2 linked regions of the Homo sapiens genome follow. The protein of the gene in region 2 purifies or fractionates together with the protein of the main gene of each other region. This does not show direct contact. Each region holds a gene or a part of one and is shown on either strand. Other genes may lie near its edges.

Evidence for each region.
Region 1: the proteins of RBKS (region 2) and NSF purify together in Homo sapiens (affinity purification with mass spectrometry; 3 studies listed by BioGRID and IntAct, with this or other methods). This does not show direct contact.

The regions. Positions count from the first base shown.
Region 1 is NC_000017.11:46,635,669-46,642,694, reverse strand, and holds part of NSF (vesicle-fusing ATPase), read right to left. Parts: intron 5,320-7,026; coding exon 5,153-5,319; intron 2,642-5,152; coding exon 2,534-2,641; intron 2,053-2,533; coding exon 1,977-2,052; intron 1-1,976.
Region 2 is NC_000002.12:27,887,362-27,895,198, reverse strand, and holds the start of RBKS (ribokinase), read left to right. Parts: upstream 1-4,811; 5' UTR 4,812-4,853; coding exon 4,854-4,942; exon of another isoform or gene 4,943-5,743; intron 5,744-6,443; exon of another isoform or gene 6,444-6,490; intron 6,491-7,837. Other genes in the region: BABAM2 (BRISC and BRCA1-A complex member 2), read right to left, coding at 515-642. UniProt on the Homo sapiens protein: Catalyzes the phosphorylation of ribose at O-5 in a reaction requiring ATP and magnesium. The resulting D-ribose-5-phosphate can then be used either for sythesis of nucleotides, histidine, and tryptophan, or as a component of the pentose phosphate pathway.

The DNA of each region.
Region 1 (7,026 bases), on a different chromosome or scaffold from region 2:
TTTAAAATACATATATTTATCCAGATTAAGCTTATACAGGTAATTGGGCATATAACCCCTCAGCCTAAGGAAATATACTGAACAAGTTTGATGTCTTCTTTGCTTTCTCTTCACTTGGACACAAAAGTCTGAAATCATCCTAAAGACTTCAATGATTACAAAACTCATGTTTAAAAATTCTCAAGAGGACAAAAATTATCTAACTTAAATGTCAGAGTGCCACCTAAAGTAACTCAAGAGAACCACATTTACTATTTCAAACAAAGAATAAATTAAGTACCTTAGTATGCTCTATTATAAACAAAAAATAAAGTAATAATATGGTTTTTATAAAACCAGGGAAGAAAATGTCACATTAAAAAAAGTTTATCCTAAGAAATGCTAAATATTTGAGGTGATATGTTAATTAGGCTGATTTGATCATTCTACAATGTATACATGTATTAAAATATCAAATTGTACCCTATAAATATATACAATTATTATCTGTCAATTAAAAATAAAGTAACGCTTTTTAAAAGTTTATACTAGATGATAATTTTATGGTTAGAGTTTTGAGGCCTTAAGATTTCCTTTGGAAAGCGATGAAAAATATTTTTTTCTTACACTCTACTGCCCTCTTGTGGGCAAAATTTACTGAATGCCAATTAACTACACAATTTTTTTCCCATGGATTACTTAGAAATACCTATGAAAGTTATGCAACTCCCTTGGGATATCTTAACAAAAGGTACACAAAAATAAAATACAAAGAAGTCACTTCATAAATGTACTAGATCAATAACAGGAAAATACATCCTACCTTCATAAAATGACATACAGGCATTAAAAATCATGTTATAGGTGTATATTTAAGATGTTTGAAACATGCTAAGCAAAAAAAGCAAATTACAAAACTATGAAAACAGAACCAAATTTTACAGTGTGTGAATTGTTTTCGAATGCCTATCCATATTTTATAAATAAAATATTTTATAATTAACAAAAAACAATAAGGGGGAATGGTAATTTGTGGACCAGGAAATAAAGGCCACGCACTCAAAGACTGTTAAGTGACCCTGGACATGATGATGTGCAACCAATGAAAACCCTCTACTCTCTAGTAGGGTAGACATCAACATAGTTAAATCAACCAAAAATAAGAATTAATGCCCAGTTAATGTCACATTATTCTGGTGAGTTACTATTCTCAGAGAATAAGCTGCAATTGTTTTAATATGACAAAAATTGTGCTAGAGTACAAGAGTAGGACTGAACCATGAATCTGCTGGGAAGACTTGACCTGCACATTCATCACTTAATCACTAAAAGAAATGATGATGCTATCTCATTTAACACAAAACCAAGTGAGGGGCATTCTACAAAATAACTGACCAGTTCTCAAAGTCATAAAAGACAAAGTCTGAGGAACTGTCAGTGACTGAAGAAAACTCAAAAGACAGAACAACTAAATGCAATATGGGATCCTAAATTAGATCTTGGAACAGAAAAGGACACAATGGAAAAACTGGTGAAATCTCAATAAAATCTGTAGTTTAGTTAGCAGAAATGAAACCATGTTCATTTCTTATCATTGTACTTTTGAAAATGTCAAATAAGACATTAACATCAGGGTAAGCTGGTAAAGGGCATACAGAAATTCTCTGAGCTATTTCTGCAAATCTGTGAACCTAAAATTATCTCAAAATTAAAAGTTAAAAAATTAATTTGTTTCTTATTTTAGTGCAATTTCTAGGAAATTAAAAATTACACATGTGGCTCACACTCTATTTCTATTGGACAAAGTTGATCCAGATGAAGGTTTTAAACGTTTTCATCAGCAAACTGACCAACAGGAAATACCCCATGCTTCTGTGATAAACTCTCTCAAGAGAGATGCCCCTCTTTCCTTTCCCCATTTGGAAATCACTGTAGTTGAGTTACATATAGAAATAGGCCCACTTCATTTCAAATCTTCTAAAAACTGTAAATCTTACCAATAAGATTAAGTGACGAATTTTCTGCTTTTTCAAATGCAACTTGACTGTTTCCAACAACCAGTCCTACTTCAATCTGTAGAGAAAGACAATAATTAGTAGTCTAATAGCAAACTTCTGGACTTCTCAAAGCAAGGCCAAAAGTGAGGGGGAAATGAGGTCTCTCTGGGCAAAGCAAACCTTCCAGACTATCATCTGAGCTACTTTTACTTTTCTCATAACTTTCTTCTACAATTCTTACATGCCTTATTTCCATGCCTATATCTTTCCAATAATGCGTTTCTTATTATTTATTTACAATAAATATCTGCATTCAAGCAAATTATATGTACATATACGTCTACATTTTACATTAATATTAGGTCTGCAAATAAATACATTTTAAGCTATATTTTAATAACAATGATGGCTATGAAAGCAATTTTTTCTCCCTACTATCTTAAAAGGGTACACAATATGAAAAAAATCACTAAGCAACAGATAGGAAAATTATAATCAATCTGCACAAATTACATTATAAAGATGATCTAGTAAAGATGATCAGAAATAAAAGCTACCTTCTGCCTTTTCCCTGTCGCAGGCTCTCCCTTCAGGATGCTAGGATCCATGGCTTCAATGTCCTTCACCAGTAAGCCAAAAAGCTTTTCATTGAAGCTAAAGACAAGCTATGTAGAAAAGAGGTAAGGGGAGAAAAATCACTTCATAATATAATAGTTTGATCCTCAGATCATCACCAATGTTTTTCAAATGCAGAAAACCAGTTTATCTTATATACTCCTCTCCAATCTGCTCCTCAAACAAACTACTCACAGCCAATGAAGAAAAGGGAATTAGCACTTACGATCAGTGTTTACAAAATGACTGCAAAACTCATGTTTAAAATTTCTTCCACATGGATAAAAAATATCTAATTTAAATGTCAGAGTGCCACCTAAAGTAATTCAAGAGTACCACATTTACTATTTCTAACAAAGAATAAAGTTTCTTAGTATTTTATTCAAACACTACAGCCAGTTATATAATATTCACAAACACTCTTGGAAGCAGAAACTACGACTCCATTTTACTAGTGAGGAAGCTGAGATGCAGAAACAGGCTATGCAACAAGGCTCAAAGTCACAGTAAATGAGAGCGCCAGAAGTCAACCCTGGGTCTGTGACTCTACAATTCCTGCTTTTCTATCACTAGTACAAAATGCTTGCCCTACAAGTGCAGAGACAGCTTCTGAATGCTCAATTACTCATTCACCAAATCTTTGCTGAGTCCCTTCTAAAAGTTTGGTCTTCTTCTATGTGCTGGGGTATAATGGTAAATATTACAGGTTGGGCTGTCTGTCCATTCTGCTACTACGAGATACCACAAATGAGAAGAAACAGTTAAGGACAGTGATCTGGAGTAAGATATTTACTTCTTCTCTGAATTACGAAAGATTCTCTTTCATGGATTTACTGACTTCTACATGCTACTGAGTTTTAAATTATTATAAATACCAAAGCATTTTCTATTAAACATTCTCCTAAACATTTTCTATTAGGATACTAAAACTAAAAGCAAAGGTAAAAACCATCAAGTTTAGCTAGGCAATCTGAGCACAATTTTGGTCATCCAATACACAACAGCACCGCAATAGCTCTCTGGTGAATTGTCCTGATCTACTTTCATCAGAGACCTAACTGTACATGGTATTCCTGTCTTATTTTCTGTTTTCTTCAACTAGAAAGTAAGTTCTATGACAGCAGGGATCATATCTATTTTGTTCACTGCCGATCTGCAGTGTCTAAAACAGTGACTGGTACTAGGCACTAGGTACTATCAAATATGTGTTTAATTAATTCTTATCTCAACTATGTCCCTTAGCTGTGTAGCCATGGGCATACCATTTACCTTCTTTAGATCTTAAATTCCTCATTTGGCCAGGCGTGATGGCTCACACCTGTAATCCCAGCACTTTGGGAGGCCGAGGTGGGAGGATCACTTGAGGTCAGGACCAGCCTGGCCAACATGGCAAAACCCCATCTCTACTAAAAATACAAAAAAAAAATGGTTGGGCATGGTGGCTCATGCCTGTAATCTCAGCACTTTGGGAGGTCAAGGCGGATGGATCACCTGAGCTCATGAGTTCGAGACTAGCCTGATTAACATGGTGAAACCCCATCTCTACTAAAAGTACAAAATTAGTCGGGTGTGGTGGCGCATGCCTGTTATCCCAGTTACTCGGGAGGCAGAGGCAGGAAAATCACTTGAACCCAGAAAGCGGAGGTTGCAGTGAGCTGAGATGGTGCCGCTGCACTCCAGCCTGGATGACAGGGTAACACACCATCTCAAAAAATAAATGAATAAATAAATAAAATTTTAAAAAATAAAAAAATAAAATTCCTCATTTGTATATGTGGAGTTACATAAGGTAATCTCTTGAGGTTCATTCCAATTCTAGTACTCTTTTTAAAATAATGTACTATATCCTTTTCCTATCTAGCAGGAATTCAGTTTTTTAAGATTCTCAAATAAGCCCATAACCAAAATAAGAACTTTTTTTTTTTTTTTGAGACAATCTCGATCTGTCACCCAGGCTGGAGTGCCGTGGCACAATCATGGCTCACTGCAGCCTCAACCTCCCAGGCTCAAGCCGTCCTCCCACCTCAGCCTCTTGAGTAGTTGAGACCACTACACGCAGCTACTTTTAAAAAAATTTTTGTAGAGACAGGGTCTCACTTTGTTGCCCAAGCTGATCTTGAGCTCCTGGGCTCAAACGATCCTCCCAACTCAGTCTCCCAAAGTGTTGGGATTACAGGCATGAGCCACCATGTCTGGCCAAGAGCTACATTTTCTACAGAACTATATTAGTGAAAGAGACAGACATTCCAGAGGCAAAACAAATGTCCTATGATATAAAAAGGAATTTCAGATATATATGTCCACAGGGTTCCCAAATTTGCTGAGGGAAAAGCTGCTATAATTATACATGACATTTTAATCTAAAAGCTACTTTAGAATTTTTCTGAACAGACTCCTTGAAGTTCAGTAAATACATCTCCCTCACTTTTATCACTCACCTTGGATATACGAGTTGATACGCAAAGCCCCTCTCACTTTTTAAAAGGTGGAATTAATTTTGGAAAACTGCAGAAATTAGAATACCTATAAAGTTAAAGGAATGAAAGAAAATTAAAAACTACCTGTTGTCCCACTGAGAAGGCCTGGTTGTTGAATTGCTGAATAAATTCTGCTGCCATCTTGTCGGTGTCATAAGGGTTGGAGTCAATGCTTTTTTTCTGCAGGAAATCAATCTCGATGGTCATTGTGCCAATACACTGTTTGGCTTTGTCAAATGTATATAAGGAGACTAGGGGAAAAAAAGAAGCATTTTTTTAAAAATCACAGGAGTACAAAATACCTGTAGTGTTTCTAGTAACTAAAAGTTTCACATAAATGAATCATAAACTACTTCACCAAAAATGGGGTTTAAATGGCCTTCACTGGAGGGACACACAGGTACAGGTTTAAAAAATAATAGTCACTAGAGATTTTCTTCCCCATCTGAATTAATTAGAAATACTGAATGGCAGGCCGGGCGCGGTGGCTCACTCCTGTAATCCCAGCACGCTGGGAGGCCGAGGCGGGCGGATCACGAGGTCAGGAGATTGAGACCATCCTGGCTAACACAGTGAAACCCCGTCTCTACTAAAAATACAAAAAATTAGCCGGGCGTGGTGGCGGGCGCCTGTAGTCCCAGCTTCTTGGGAGGCTGAGGCAGGAGAATGGCGTGAACCTGGCAGGCGGAGCTTGCAGTGAGCCAAGATCACGCCACTGCACTCCAGCCTAGGGCAACAGAGCCAGACTCCGTCTCAAAAAAAAAGAAAGAAAGAAATATTGAACGGCAGTCTCTCTGTTGTTATCCCTCATCCCACTCTTATCAGGATCACAATCCTCCCCACATGGCCTCTGCATCTTTCTCCTCATTTAATGCAATACAGTATGGGATGCCCCAACACAGTTGGCATAACATGCTATTTCCAAATAAGATTTTTGTTTGACACAAAAAAACAGCTAAGGTGGGATGTGGATGAATTATTTTGGCCTAAGAAAGTAGGACGCAAGGCAAAAAAAAGAAGCTTGAAAAACAATGTTTACTAGCGGAATTTGCTCCAGAGCAAGTTAGAGTTTGACATTTCTTTTTTACTACTACAAAAATGTTTCCTGAGCACCTGCTACATCTAGGGAACTACAGTAAGTTCTACATGTACACATGTAGATAAGGGCAAGGACGAGGTTTTTAACTCCTCTTCCTATTAACAGCATCTAACAGTTTCTTTCAGGTGCTTAATATATTCATGAACTGTTTAAATGAAACAACAATAACAGAAAACCCATGGTCTCCATGCTAATAACAAAGGAGGCAATAAAGCATACATACAAAGCTTTGGATAAGAAAATTCCTGTTCAAGCCACATAAAAAGTTTTAAAATGAATTTTAGGTTACAATGTAATTAATATTAAAGTGTTACACATGATTTTACATCATGTAATAACTGTTCGACCAAAAACCTTTAATTGTACAACTACAACACAGTTTACATATCATATTTTTAGAAAAATATATGTTAAAACAAATTTTGCTAGTGACAGATAATTACAAAGAAGCATTTCCCTAGAAAAAAAAACTTGATTCTTAAATCAGCTCAAAAAGTATACTTATAAATGCCAGTTTATAAACAAACTTTTAAAGCAAAAAATTTTACAGTGCTGTATACTGTAGTGGTACTATTAGGAAAGAGTAGAGTAGGCTACCCAGAAAAGTTCAAGAGGATTTTTGCATTTGAGTTTCCCCAGGAGGGCAACTTGATTACGCCTAGTAAGAAAGAGTCTATTGCTACTCTTCAATAAGGCTTCACACACGAGCACACACACACACACACACACACACACACACACACACACACATTTATTTTCCCTTTAGGTTCCCTGAAGATACTTGTCCTAAAATTTACCAATGGCCCCTTAAGGATACAGTAGCAGCTCTCGTAAGCAACCTCCACTGAGCTGAGTCATC
Region 2 (7,837 bases):
GTAGCTTTTTGGTAAATCTAAATTTGTTTCAGGAAAAAAAAAATCTGTTTTTTAATGCAACATTTCTAGGTGTGAGATCTTGCTGTTTCAACCCCATTGTGAGAAATGACCCATTTTGGCTAGCTATTATAATATTCACATTAAGAGAGTTTACCAAATGGTATCAGATTCAGAATATGTTTGTTGCTGGACTGCAGCAAACACAATAAGAAAACAAGCCAATGAATGAAAAACACACTTTTAAAACTCTGACGGCATGCTCTTCACAAAGAAAAAACAGAAAAAAAGACATGAACATTCTAGTCATAAAACAATGGTCCACAACACAAATAAAATAACCTGAAACATAAAATGTCAAGAACTGAACAAAACCAACTGAATCAACATATGATGAGATGATGACTTGGTGGGTTTCTGTGGCAGTCAATTTTTATGAGTCTGGTAAGGAAGGGCTGTCATTAGGTAAAGGTTGAATTGGTTCTGGTACATTGACTGAATTCATTCTGGTACATACCCAGATTTTAAGTCAGTTATCCTCAAACAGTTTGTAGCATCCAGTCCCACTTTTCCATTCCGGACCACGCTAGATATGAAAGGGGAGAGCATTGGAGATATTCGGTTCAAGGCCACTTCTGGGGACATTTTAACTTGACTTGTAAATCACCACTGAAAGCAGAAGGAAAGAATAATGATCAGGGCTTACAAATGGACTAGATACAACACTCTGCCTGAAAACTGGACAGCATACAGCAGTTCCTCTTGCATGAATAAATAATTCATTTCCCATCTCTAGCGCAGCCTCTTCCAATGATCCTCCAGAAGAAACCACCTCACTGCTGCTCAGCTACTCAGGACTGGGACTACATCACTGCTTTTCAGGAACAGAAGGAACTCCTGAAATACAATTCCCTTTTCCTTCCCAAAGCTGATTTCTACACTGCCACACTCTACTCAAAGTGGTCCCACTCTATCTCACTCGTTCTACCTTAGCTGAGTCCAAGGAGCCCTCGCTAACAATCCTCTATCCCAACACAAAAACACACACATCACTGAGTTAGCAATCTCTCCCTGTGTGTCCCCACAAGGAGTAAAAACTTGATGGATAATACCGTATAAAACTCTACAACAGGCTGACCTGCTTGAAGCTATTACTTACTAGAAATTATTTACTGCTGATATATCTTTCTTTTTTTTTCTTTTTTTTTTGCGACAGAGTCTCACTCTGTTGCCAGGCTGGAGTGCAGTGGCGCAATCTCGGCTCACTGCAAACTCCACCTCCCGGGTTCAAGTGATTCTCCTGCCTCAGCCTTCCGAGTAGCTGGGACTACAGGCACATGCCACCACGCCCAGCTAATTTTTGTATTTTTAGTAGAGACGGGGTTTCATCAGGTTGGCCAGGATGGTCTCAATCTCTTGACGTCATGATCCACCCACCATGGCCTCCCAAAGTGCTGGGATTACAGGCGTGAGCCACCGCACCCGGCCTACTGCTGATACACCTTTCTTAATACCTTTCCGTCCACAGTGTAGTATAACTACCTGCTTACGTGATCTCTTCCCTGCAGGGTCTATGTTTTGAATCCCCAGGGTTTAACAGAAATACCTGGCACATGCTAAACACTCAATAAACATTTTTTAATAAATAAATGAGTAAGGGGACAAAAGTTAGAGAAATATTTCAGTATGGAGAGAAGATAATGTGCCCCCTCCCCAGAATTTGGTAGGGGAATAGATATAACAAGATCCAAGGAAGAGATATAACAAAAATCTACTTGACAATTAAATTATGAAAACATACATCTATGCAGCTATCAAGCAACACAGACTAACATGGATCTTAAGGTATTTGACTTTAAGGCACTAAGTCCTTACACTTAAAACCACAAAAGTAGAACCAATACATCATATCTAAATTATCTGGAAACTCATAGGGCTGGGGGAGGGAGTACACGAATTCTTCTTAATAGATTTCTAAATGAAAGCCTCTTCCTTCAGAGGAAAAAGTCGATTCAAATGATCGTTTCCTTCCTCAATTTTAAAGAATAATGCCACATCAAAAGAAAATTAATTTCCAGCAAGTTACCAGTAAATGATGCTCTGGTTCTAGTTTTCATACATTATACCACATGAAAACTTACAAGTCCTTGCTAAAATAAATGTTGAAAATTAAAACCTGTTTCAGTTTATTATTTCAGATAGTAAGTAATAAATTTATTTGCTAATTTGATAGCTCAAAAAATAAGAACACTTTGACCCTATATAGTGATGACAACCAGAAGTATCTTCGAGATTAACACCTTTATATTCATACTTCAGTTCTAAAATCATCCTTTTTGTAAATATAAAACAAGCTCTTCTTCTGACCGCTTAACAGATGACCGCCCCCCGACTAGTCTCTCATTTCAAAGTAAGACTAAACATCTAACACTGTACTACCAATCATAAAAATCATGTACTTTTTTAAACATTTTATCACTTACAAGGAGCGTCCATATATATTACTGCAGTTGATCTTCACAAGCCTGAGGTAGTAAGGAATTTTAATTCCCAGTTTGCAGATAATATGGGTAATTATTATAATTTGATTCTGAACAGTATACTAATCCACATCATAATTTTGAAGCCTATTTTTTTCTATTCGCCAACATTTCCACCTTCATGTCTATGTCACAATTCTTGAAGGGATGCTTATCAAAGTCATATGCTAAGTACAAATATACCTATCTTATAAAAAAGCAAAAGGGTCTCACCTATATTACCGAATTGTTCTTCTGTGTTTTTCCCCACAGTACCCATTATTACTTTATCTCTTGCTTCTACAAAAGAAGGAAACAGAACCAACACATTCTAGACACCTATCTACCCATTATCAGGCATTATATTACTCATCTCTATCTGTAATTTCATTTACATTTCCCCAACTCTGTTCCCTGAGAACAATAATTGTTCCCATTTGACAAGTGGAAGCTAAAGAAACTTGACAAATAGAAAATTAAAGCTCAGCAAAATAAAATAACTTGTTGAATGTTGGAAGCTGGAGGATCAGAATCCAAATCCGGATTCTCCAAGTCCACTATACCCATCTTTCTCTCAAATAAACATTGATAACTTCTATCACCAAAGAGAAAAGCATCAAGGTGATTTTGTAAAGCGTATATCTTATAAAATGTGAACAGACAAAAAGTAAAAATTTAAACAAATGATTGCTTTACCACTAAAAACAAACTGGACTATTGCTGACCTACTGCTGAACCTGGTCTGAGTGATTCACTAGTCAAATGTTAAAGGGAACAGCCTTGCTCTAGAAGCCAAACCATACTAAGTGACAACAATACATTCTAATTCAGCAACGGTCGTGACTTTAGGATGACACCTGAGGGAATGAATTCTATTTCCAGGGCAGCCATAATACTATGTTTTAACAGTGCAAGGTTTCACGCAGTATTAAAATCTATTTCAACCATGAGGAGGTGTGACTTCTCTAAAAAAAAAGGGCGGGGGGTGGGGAGTGGAACACAATGACTCCAAAATCAGAAGTCACTTAGCCAAAAACACTGGTCCTTTGGTGCAGTGAACCGGGTACATGGACAGGGAGTCACCACCGGTAGTAACTCTTACGCATGGCAGCACTATAATACACCCCAGATATACAAATATTTACGGTGGTCAGAGTCCCCTGAATACTACTACTGCAATTTGTATTTCCTGATTTTGACGTATTGCAAAAGGAAAATGCAAAATTACAATTTTTGCAAGGGTCTGCTACCCCAAAATAAAGTTACAAAAGGTCCTTTGATGAGAGGCCTGGGGATTACAAAGACGTCTAAAGCACCATCCAGGTTCTTGCAATTAAAATGAGATGACAAACACGGAAACATGTGCCCTGCTGACGTCATGGAACGGAAAGGGGTGGCATCCTGCTGCGTCACGTCGACGTCATACAGCGCACGAGGGAAGTTACACTGGGGAAGCAATTTCCCCCAAGGGGCAACATTCGAGAAAAACAAGTTAGCTCAGACCCGAAGAATGACCACCCCACTCTAGGGGACGTCTTAAAAAGGGACACTCTCCCCTCTTCCAAACTGTATGATTCCCCTCATCAGGCAACAAGGAACTAATACTCGGGGTTTACAGGAACCAGGGGATGGGCCAGATATGGAGAAAGAGACGCCTCTGGCCTTGGGGGCTCGTTCTTGAGGGAATCAGCGTGATGGGGATGAGAAGGGCATCTTTGGAACGGGGGCCTTCTCCATAGGAAGAGGAGGCGAGTCCCCTGGCCATATTTAAACCACAGTTCTCCACGCCACCTGTGCGACTCGGGATCCAACCTCCCCGCACCAGCCCCAGTCCAGGTACCTGGAACTTAGTCCGATCGGTAACCGGCGACTACGTGGGGTACAGGTACCCGAGCGCGCCCCCGACAGACGCACCGACCTGCGCGCGCGCCGCGGGCAGGATGCGTGCGCACTCCCCGGACGTCCCGCCCCGCCCCCTCTGCGGCCCCGAAGCTGGGCGGCGTGCGCGCCCCCGCGCCGCGCCGAGCCGGGCGCTCGGAAAGGCGTCCCCGCGGTGCCTGACAGTTCCTTCCTCAGCGCCTGCCCCGTGAGTGACGAGGAGCGCGGAGTCTCGCCATATCAGGAGGGCCCTGTTACGTGAGGCTGTGCACCGAGACTATTCCAGGAAGAAGAGGGGACACTTGGTGGGCGGGGTGATTTCGGGCAGTCAGGTGGGCGACCCGCGTAGGCGTCTGAAAGGCCCGCGTCGTTAGGGAGGGCAGGAGTGGCGTCTCTGGTTACGGGGTCGGGCAAAGGGCAGAGGTCACCGTCCAGGTTGGACAGCAGCACCTTTGAGCGATGGCGGCGTCTGGGGAACCCCAGAGGCAGTGGCAAGAGGAGGTGGCGGCGGTGGTAGTGGTGGGCTCCTGCATGACCGACCTGGTCAGGTTAGTCCGGGGCCAGTTACTCAGTCTGCGGCTCGGGGGAGGAGGCGTGCCGTGCGCTATGCGCCCAGTGGAGCTTTTGGGCGCTGGGTCTCCAGGGATAGACAGTGCTAGCTTTGGGTATGAGCTGCAGGTTTTCGAAGCCTTCAGCCTACCTTCCTGGCATGAAAGAACTTGAGTATATAAAGGTAAATCTCAGGGGAGGGGACGTAATAGGCCAGGGTTTAGTGAAAGCTCTAATATTACTCAAAGCGCTCCCCAAAGACCTGCCCTCCAAAGACTTGCGCCCCCAAAGACCTTTCTTGGCCCGGCTGCTGAGCCTTTCCCCAAACGAGCCAGGGAACTTTGCCCACGTCATTTTACCTCCGAGAATGTGCCTACCTCACAGGGTTGTTGTGAGGACTAAATGAAGTAAAGTGTTTTGTCAAGCGTAACATTATCCAAATTGGGTATTATTCGTCTGAGCTTATTGTATAAAATAATGAGTTGAGCAGAAATCAAAAAGACTGTCACCTTTCACCATGTTGATTGTCGGCATTACTGCAGTATTTTATATTTACAGCGTATTTTTCAGCAAGCCAAGTATGAATCAAAATAAAAACATAAACACAGTATTTACAACCTCTGAAAACGATGATCAAATTATGATAGAAAATATGCCAAATGAAAATTGTTGAGTTAGGTCAGTAAGATTGAGTAGACAGATCCTTCTGATTTTTCTTTTTTTTAAATTAAGGTAGCTTTTCTGATTACAAAAGTAATGTATGTTCACTGTAAAATTAGTAATAAATTCAGATATTCCAAGAAAATCCTACCACTCCAATTACTGCAGTTCAGTCTTTTGATGAATATCTTTTCAGTTGTAATGCTACTTTGTGTTATAAAAATGATCAGGTATGCTACAGTAACACCTCATTCGTCCTGAAATGTTGCTTTTCCAAAGGGTAATAGAGAACGTGGAACTAAACAAAAAGGCTTTGGGACAATCAAAATAAGTCACCAAATTGCTGCACCAAACCACCTGTATTCTACTCAGAAAATAGGTCTAGGGTCTTCATGTAACCAATTTAACCTTACCTTAAAATATTTATAAGCTGTGTTACCAAATTTCCACTGAGATTAGAAAGGTGGGAGTTAGAGAAGAGACTGCTAGAGGCAGTTATAGTGACTGACGAAAACTTGAGGATGAGTAGGAGACTGTGTAACGAGAAGAAGCAACAAAAGAATTTTAAATACCAATGACCTTTATTTTTCCACAAATATTAGAACTATTCTGTCAGACACTGTGCCAAGATAAAAATACTTTCCTTTGGTGACAGAGCATAAAATTGAATCTAGTTGGAGACATTTGTTGAAGAGGCCTGTACATCTTTTTCTAGAGCAAGAGTAAGTAAACTTTTCTGTAAAGGGCCAGATAGTAAATATTTTAGGCTTTGCAAGCCGTATGTGGTCAAGGTCACATTTTTTTTTAACAACATTTTTTAAATGTAAAAACCATTCTTACCTCCCAAGCCTTACAAGAACATCCTGCAGGCCATAGTTTGCAGACATCTGTGTAGAAAGAACATTACTGTGTTTACAACACAATATAGCAATTGATTTTACTGGTGATGACTCTTTTCAAGAAAAGGTTATATGGTACTTACTAAATTTTGTATAAAAATAGAGCATGTATTTCACTTTAGAAAAAGTTTCATCAAAAATTCATAAAGTTGAGTTACATAAAGGAATAAACCTTCATCTAAAATGATTCATTCCATGGGAAATCCACCAAGCTAAATGTTTACCATGATTTTATGTGTGAAGTGGCAGAAGAGTAAGAAAACTAAAGTGGACCGGGCGCAGTGGCTCATACCTGTAATCCCAGCACTTTGGGAGGCCAAGGTGGGCAGATCACCTGAGTGAGGAGTTTCAGACCAGCCCAGCGAACATGGTGAAACCCCATCTCTACTAAAAATACAAAAATTAGCTGGGCATGGTAGCTGGCGCCTGTGATTCCAGCTACTCAGGAGGCTGAGGCAGGAGAATTGCTTGAACCTGGGAGGTGGAGGTAGCAGTGAGCTGAGATCGCGCCATTGCACTCCAGCTTGGGTGACAAGAGCAAAACTCCATCTCAAAAAAAAAAAGAAAAGAAAAGAAAATTTTCTCATACATCCTACCTGAATAAAAGTGTCAGGGTTAAAATTCAGAGCTACTTCCTTGTTACCAAACTGAGAGCTTTCTGTGAAGCTTGACCATCAGATACTAAAAATAACTATAGTACTTTGTGGGGTGGGGTAGGGGAGTGGTGTCAAAGGCCCATTTTAGCATCCGTCAGGGTTTTAAAGTCTTATTTCAGAGCTAGAAAAATTTGGAAATTATTTATTCTAGTCCTTCAGTTTTTAGATAAATAAACTGAAGCCCAGAGAAGAATTTCTCCTCTTGGCCATATTCTTTCCTTCATAAAATATCCAAGTTTCTTCTCTTCACATGAATCAGTAAAAATTTTACTGATGATTAGCAAAATCACTAGTAAAAATTTTACTGATGATTAGCAAAATCACTAGTAAAAATTTTACTGATGATTAGCAAAATCATTAGTAAAATCATCAGTAAAAAATCATTAGTAAAAACTGTATTCCCATATAGACTCTCTCTGCTAATTCCCACAGCTTTTCAACAAACTTTTCATGATCTCTCGTTACTTATGACACTGAAGATCTTTACAAAAATCTGCGTATAGGATTTTCATTTAAAACCCTGCATCTGTGATAAACTTGGGTGCAACTTTTCTAGTTACAGTTAGTATCATGATTATATTAGTTATCTACTGCTGCTGTAACAAATTACCAAATTTAATAATTAACGCAAGTTTATTTTTTTACTGTTCTGGAGGTCAGAAGTCTGATACAGGTCTCA